Linked DNA regions of Homo sapiens. The protein of the gene in region 1 purifies or fractionates together with the protein of each later gene. This does not show direct contact. Each region holds a gene or a part of one and is shown on either strand. Other genes may lie near its edges.

Region 1 (4,085 bases):
AACCCTGAAAAAGAAGAGTAAAATAAACCCAAAGTTAATAAACATTTAAGCCAATAATAAAAATAATGAAAATCATGAAATAGAAAAATGAACAAACAATAGAGACAATCAGTGGTCAATTTTTCTGTACTCCATGAACAAAACTTCAGTTCAGAATGATTTTATATTTAAATATATATCCAGAATCACAAAGATCTTAGAAGAAAAAATTAGGAAAATATAGGAATAAAGTGGGAACTCTGTGGGAATAAAAATCAGAAAGTAATTGCCTACCAGGTAAACTCGGGGGAGGGCAGGCAATTGACTAAGAACAGGCAGATAAAACTTTCTGGAGTGAAGGAAATGGTGGTCTTCTTTTCGTTGGTACTTACATGGACATATATAACTGTCAAGGTTCATTGACAATGAACACTTAAGTGTACACTGAACGCTTAAGATCTGGGCCTTGTAATGCCCAGATTACATCTACTTAAAAAAACTACATCTCTATTTTTTTAAGTAGAGAAAAGTGTCTTGGGGAGTTTATGGCAGTGATGTTTGGGCAGACTGGGGCATAGGTTTCAGAAGCATTCATAGCATCTTCAGTTCAACAATTTGCTAAGAATGGTTTTGCAGCCAAAAATGTAAGATGAGTGCAAATATCTATGATTAGAGTCATTGGGCATACAACTACAAATCCCCACACTTGTATTACAGGCCATATGATTAATTCGTTATCACTAGATACCTTTCCTTCAATGAGGTTCTTCCATTAGGAACCCAGAGCTCTCCAGGGAAAAATTGCAATTGAGGTTTTGGATATATTGGGTGGAAAAGAAAGTCACCTCACATAAAACTTAGTGATTGGAGCTGTCACCATTGAAAATTTCTAAACTTTGCAAGACAGCAGTGACGTTTCAAATGACACTCTCAGAGAGTTGATAATGGGCTAAAATAGATCTCCCTCCAGGTGGATTTACTGTACAAGGACAACATTTACATTGCACTTGGAGACTTCTCCCAGTTTGGTTTAAGTTCACAGATTGCAGATCCCAGACAGCTGGTATCAACTGACCAGTGTTCTGTTAAGGCTAAAGCCAAGACTCTTTATCACACTGTGGCCTTAAGATTGGATTTCTCTTCCTGTTCCTGGGAAGAATTAGAGATATAACCTAAAGGTCACTATTATTCTGAGAAAAGGGATTCTGGAGGAGGAGGGAGCAATGAGTATGTGGCAGGAGTTCAAGGTAATAAGGGCTGAGACACAAGCCACAGAGCATAAAGCTCCAGTCCTTCCTCCAGGGATGAGGCAGTAAGGACTTGGACTCCTCTGTCCAGCTTTTAACAATCTAAGTTACGGTTAGAGCTTTCTCCTTTTCTTTCAACTACTCCTGGCAGTTGTGGGGTCATGGAATTTTTGTAAAAAATGGGGTGGAGGAAAATAAGGCATCTGCTGAGTGTATAACCATTTTACCTCTTGTTTTTAGCCCTCTTCTGGGTCACGCTAGAATCAGATCTGCTCTCCAGCATCTTCTGTTTCCTGGCAAGTGTTTCCTGCTACTTTGGATTGGCCACGATGGGCTGGAGCTGCCTTGTGACAGGAGCAGGAGGGCTTCTGGGTCAGAGGATCGTCCGCCTGTTGGTGGAAGAGAAGGAACTGAAGGAGATCAGGGCCTTGGACAAGGCCTTCAGACCAGAATTGAGAGAGGAATTTTCTAGTAAGTAAACTTGAGTCATGGGTCTGTGGCTCCATCTTAAACTCTGCATGGGTGTGGGGAGGTTGACCTTGTCTAGCAAGTTAAGGAAAGTTGTAGCCAAATGAAAGCCAGTCACACATCTAAAGTCATCAGAAAGGAAATAGAATAAAATGGTATAGTGTGAAAGATACTGGATGGGGTGTCCAGAGACTGGATTCTGGCCCTGACGCAGAACTTGAGAGGCAGCCATGTCAGCCTCAAGGCCCCTTTTCTTCTCTTCTAGAGAGTCACACATGAGTTCTCCTTCTTGTCTACAACTCTTATGTTCTGAAGCTTTTTGTCTTGGCGATTGCTGTGCGACATTCACAAAGGACATCATTTACCTGGAGACCTCACCAGTGGGTCCTGCCTGTCTAGACTGCCCCAGGCTTCATTTCATTTTATAGCTTCCTTAGTATCTTTAGTGAGGGCAAAATAAAAGGAAGTGAAGGTACGGATGTGTGTGTAATTGTGTGTGTGTGTCAGACAGAGAAAGAAAATGAGGGGGAAAGAAGGTCAGAGACAGAGAATGAGAAAGACAGAGAATGAATGAGAAAGATAGTGTGAGGGAGAGCATCAGCAAGAGAGAGAGAGTGAAAGTGAGAGAGATCATCAGTGAGAGAGAGAGAAAGAGAGAAAGAGAGCATGCACAAGTGCACGGCACAGAGCAGAGACAGAGTAAAAGGCAGTATGAGGCCAACATGCCTCATTTATATTTCTCATATATAGCCTTTTTAAAAAAAAACCATTTGTATCTGTTGTTCAATACTCCAAATAAATTGACTGCAGAATTTGCTGTAGTAACTCTTTGTGCAAATAACCCTGTGAGGAAGGTAGAAAAGGGGTCACCTCCAACTGGACAATGAACCCATCAAGTTCCAGAAACATAAAGTTACTTGCCAAGAACAGCTGATTAATGTGTAGCAGAGCTCAGACCAGAGCTTCATTCCAGAAGCTTCATCACTTGACCCCCGGGCTAATCCTTGGTGGGTCTTCAGTCTCTCCCTTTGCCTCTCTGTGTGCCCCAAACCAATTCCATGTTTTCCTCCCAACCCAGGGGACTGGGGGAACTATGTATCTTCTTCATGCAGGTTCTGGCTGCCTAGAAGGTCCTGCCCTGTTCACACAGAAGCTCCCCTTGACACTCTCCTCTTCTTTCACTCTTCTCTGACCTCTTTAAATGTCCAATTTCCTCCACTCTCTGTTCTAATAGTGAACAGATATTAACACATGACTGATATTAAATGTTTGTAATCCTTATGTCTCAGCAATATTTACAATCTAACATCTGATACCAGGAAAAAGCAATGCTCAGTCTAGAGGAAGAGTTCTGCTATGGTGAAAATGCAGGGAGCATAATGGATGGGCAGGGCCTGTATGAAGATAAAAACAGAGAATCCTTTCAGTGTTCTTTCTGTGCCAGGCACTGTGCTAAAGGTTTTGCATGTGCTGACTCATTTACTTCCCATAACAACCCTATGAGATGGGTAATACTATTATCCTCCTTTTTTATAGATGAGGAGACAGACACAGAGAGGTTAATCAACTTGTCGAAGGTCCCAAGTTAGATTACGGCAAAGCTGGATTTGAATCCAGGCAGTCTAGTGCAGCTTCTGTGCTCTTAAGTAGTAGTTTGTCTAGCAGCTTCTCTGAGCCTCCCTCCAGCCCAACACACAACACAAAAGCAACTGAATTTAGTCTACATGAAACACTTGCCAAGTCCACAGTGCCTTGGAGAAGGAGGGAGCTAAGACTCCATCAAAAATTGCGCTTTTCTGGTCTCTCTAGATCCATGGAAACTCACCGGGGAAGAGTCATTTTCTATCGGCTTTGGACTTCTGCTATGAAATGGCAATTCCTTTGAGCCAGTCTGTCTAAAGTCGGCAGCAAAGGAGAAGCAGATGAAGGGAGTAGAAAAGGTAGAGGTGGAAATACAACCAGAGAAAATTCCACTCTCGGGCTGACACCCACCTCCTCCCCAGCAGCCTCTTCCCTGCCTCCACCATTCCAGGGCCTTCTTGGAGTTGCCTGACAGTGGGAAGGGGCTGGGAGTAGACAAAACAAGGCAGAGGCATCAGAAGAGCAAATGGTCCCACCTGTATCCCAGGAAGGAATTTCTCCAGCCTTGAATTTTTCATTCTGAATTTCGCTCTCACTGTTCTTTGGCCTTTGTGGGCATTTTCAGTTAAACTGGCTTATTCTTACTCTTTCTCAGAAAAGTTGATTCTAAACAGCTATTCCTGCACCTGGGGTACAGGGTACAAAAATGGCAGGTGGAATGGGCAGGTTTGAGCCTTCACTAGAAAATTGACTTTAGATCTGTCCCTTAACCTCTCTGAGCCTCAGTTTCCTCACCAATAAAGTGGGACT
Region 2 (3,500 bases), about 110 Mb from region 1:
CCAAAAGGGATTCTAATTCTCATTACAAATCCTGCTTAAATCAGTGTTTCCCAAAGGTGGCTGTCATCAGAACCACTTGATAAGCTTTTTCAAAAAGTGGATCTCCAGGTCCCACCCCTGGAGGTTCTCACTCAGTAAATCTGAGGGAGGTCCTCGGAATGTGTGTTTTACTTCTTGAGCTTGGCAGGTGATTCGGATGATCAGTGCAGCATGGGAACAGCTGGGTTAGATGACACCATGTTACCAACAGACACATCTAGGGCTAAAAGGCTGGCTCAACCCAAGGCTGGAATGCTTAGGGCAGCTGCTCTACTCTGTAAAAAGTGGGAAAGCTGGGCATAGTGGCACGTGCCTGTAGTCCCGGCTACTTGAGAAGCTGAGGCAGGAGGATGGCTTGAGCCCTGGCGTTTGAGAGCAGTGAGACTCAGTCTCTAAAAACAGAAAAAAGAGGAGAAAACGGCAGGCCAAGCCCAGGTGTGCTCCTAGAATATGATCGGACTTTCGTGGGTCCCTCTGCCTGACACTGTGGTTGGCATGGATGATGGAAGGGGGAGAAGTATTTAGGGTGGGAGACGGGCTGGCCAGCAGCCGCCACAGCCCCTCATGTCTTGGACAGGGCTACCACTCCCTTCGGCAGCTTGTGAAGCTGTCCAAGCTGGAGGTGCCACAGGAGATCAAGGACGTGATTGAGCCAATCAAAGACAACGATGCTGCCATCCGCAACTATGGCATCGAGCTGGCCGTGAGCCTGTGCCAGGAGCTTCTGGCCAGTGGCTTGGTGCCAGGCCTCCACTTCTACACCCTCAACCGCGAGATGGCTACCACAGAGGTGCTGAAGCGCCTGGGGATGTGGACTGAGGACCCCAGGTGAGGGCAGTGGCCCAGAGATCCCCAGAGGAGGGTCCAAGAGCAGCCCCGGCTGCAGTGCTGGCTCCCCACGGTGGTACAGATGGATGTCTGTGCCATGGCTAGCTGGGCACATCGAAGGCTCCAGTCTCAGAGGGCATCAGATGGAAGAACTCAGCCTCAGGGGTGCTCCCCTGCTTCCGGCTCCCTCTAGCCAATCCCTTGTCTCAATTCTCTGTCCCCATCCTCACCCAGGCGTCCCCTACCCTGGGCTCTCAGCGCCCACCCCAAGCGCCGAGAGGAAGATGTACGTCCCATCTTCTGGGCCTCCAGACCAAAGAGTTACATCTACCGTACCCAGGAGTGGGACGAGTTCCCTAACGGCCGCTGGTGAGGGCCTGCAGACCTTCCTTGCAAATACATCTTTGTTCTTGGGAGCGGGAGGGCAGAAGAAGTTTGCATGCTTGTGGTTGACCTGGGAGGAGTCAGGGGCAGAATTTACAGGAATGGCCTCCTGGGCATGTGGTGGCACTGCCCTCTGTCAGGAGTGTGCCCTGACCTCTGGGCACCCCTCTGCCAGGGGCAATTCCTCTTCCCCTGCCTTTGGGGAGCTGAAGGACTACTACCTCTTCTACCTGAAGAGCAAGTCCCCCAAGGAGGAGCTGCTGAAGATGTGGGGGGAGGAGCTGACCAGTGAAGAAAGTGTCTTTGAAGTCTTCGTTCTTTACCTCTCGGGAGAACCAAACCGGAATGGTCACAAAGTGAGTGATGCTGGAGTGGGGACCCTGGTTCATCCCCTGCCCCTGGCCTGACCCCAGCTGCAGGCCAGGCTGCGGGGCTGTGACTTCCCCATCCTGTGCCCTCCCCTCCATGCTGTGGACATGGCAAAGGGAGAAGGGTAAGTTGGGAGACCTCCACCTGGAAGGGCTTAGGGAGGCAAAGACAGGCTGGGTCTTTGTTGGGGGCCGTGAGAGGGACTCAGGGTGCCAAACCTGATGGTCGCCCCAGCCAGCTCACCGTCTCTCCCAGGTGACTTGCCTGCCCTGGAACGATGAGCCCCTGGCGGCTGAGACCAGCCTGCTGAAGGAGGAGCTGCTGCGGGTGAACCGCCAGGGCATCCTCACCATCAACTCACAGCCCAACATCAACGGGAAGCCGTCCTCCGACCCCATCGTGGGCTGGGGCCCCAGCGGGGGCTATGTCTTCCAGAAGGTGTGGTAGGGAGGCACGGGGTGCCCCCCTCTCTTGACCGGCACCCGTGGGTTCCCCAGAGCTTAGGGCAGAGCAGCCTGCCTCTCCTGGGCTCTTAAATTTTGAATGAGCATGGATTGGAGCGGATGGGAGCTCATGCTTTAAGTCAGATAGACCTGGCTGGGCACGGAACCCGGCCAGCACTTTGGGAGGCCAAGGCGGGTGGATCACTTGAGCCCAGGAGTTCGAGACCAGCCTGGGCAACATGGTGAAACCCATTCTCTACAAAAAATACAAAAATGACCGAGGCATGGTGGTGTACACCTGTAGTCCCAGGTACTTAGGGGGCTGGGGTGAGAGGATCGCTTGAGTCCGAGAGGTTGAGCCTCCAGTAAGCCATATTTGTGCCTCTGCACTCCAGCCTGGCCCACAAAGTGAGACCCTGTCTCAAAAAAAAAAAAAAAAAAAAAAAAAAAAGATTGGCTGGGCTTGGTGGCTCATGCCTGTAATCCCAGCACTTTAGGAGGCCAAGGTGGGCAGATCACAAGGTCAGGAGTTCGAGACCAGCCTGACAAACATGATGAAACCCCATCTCTACTAAAAATACAACAATTAGCCGGGTGTGGTGGCGGGCACCTGTAGTTGCAGCTACTTGGGAGGCTGAGGCAGGAGAATCGCTTGAACCCGGGAGACGGAGGTTGCAGTGAGCTGAGATCATGCCACTGCACTCCAGCCTGGGCAACAGAGCAAGACTCCATCTCAAAAAAAAAAAAAAAAAGATAGAAATCAGACCTATGGAGGCAGGTCACTCGACCTCTCTGAGCCTGGTTTTCTCGTCTGTAAAATGGGATGTAGCTTGTGTTCTGGGCATGAAACCTAACAAAGCATGTAACGTGCTTGGCACATGGTAAGAGCAGGAAGCACTCCCTGAAAGGCAGCTGCTGTTACTATCCTGAGTTGACACCTTTCTCCCAGGGCTGCTGGAGTTAACATTATGTTCTGATCTAAGGCCCACAGGCCCTGGAGCAGAAAGACCTGAGTTTAAGGACCAGCTCTACTGTTTACTGTCAGAGTAGCCAACGTGCTCAACTTCCCTGAACCCACTTTCCTCACGTGGGGCTCACTGTGCCCAGCCTCCCGTATTATCAGCATTCTAGCAAATGAGTTTGAGTAAACCCAGCTTAATCCCTGATAGGCACTGGTTCTAGAGGAGATGTCAATGTCATTGTCAGCTTGCACTGGGGAGGATGGAATGTGTGGGGCCTCTCTCCCATGACTCGGCCTGTCAAACCAGTTGCTGCTGTTCAGAAATGGCTTCTTCGTGGAGTCTTCCCTGACTGATTGGGAGAGGGGTGGCTGATAGCCCTCAGACCTGTCCAGACTGAGAAACTCACGTCCCCACTCCCCTCACCCTTTGCTTATGGACGTGCCAACGCCACAGTTCATTATTCCGCCCACATGGC

The links. Proteins that work in one complex are often made in the same cells at the same time.
Region 2: the proteins of HSD3B2 (region 1) and MTHFR purify together in Homo sapiens (affinity purification with mass spectrometry; 2 studies listed by BioGRID and IntAct, with this or other methods). This does not show direct contact.

What each region holds. Positions count from the first base shown.
Region 1 is NC_000001.11:119,413,865-119,417,949, forward strand, and holds the start of HSD3B2 (3 beta-hydroxysteroid dehydrogenase/Delta 5-->4-isomerase type 2), read left to right. Parts: upstream 1-1,285; 5' UTR 1,286-1,338; intron 1,339-1,466; 5' UTR 1,467-1,555; coding exon 1,556-1,697; intron 1,698-4,085. UniProt on the Homo sapiens protein: 3-beta-HSD is a bifunctional enzyme, that catalyzes the oxidative conversion of Delta(5)-ene-3-beta-hydroxy steroid, and the oxidative conversion of ketosteroids.
Region 2 is NC_000001.11:11,792,465-11,795,964, reverse strand, and holds part of MTHFR (methylenetetrahydrofolate reductase (NADPH)), read left to right. Parts: intron 1-616; coding exon 617-867; intron 868-1,101; coding exon 1,102-1,236; intron 1,237-1,426; coding exon 1,427-1,607; intron 1,608-1,875; coding exon 1,876-2,058; intron 2,059-3,500. UniProt on the Homo sapiens protein: Catalyzes the conversion of 5,10-methylenetetrahydrofolate to 5-methyltetrahydrofolate, a cosubstrate for homocysteine remethylation to methionine. Represents a key regulatory connection between the folate and methionine cycles.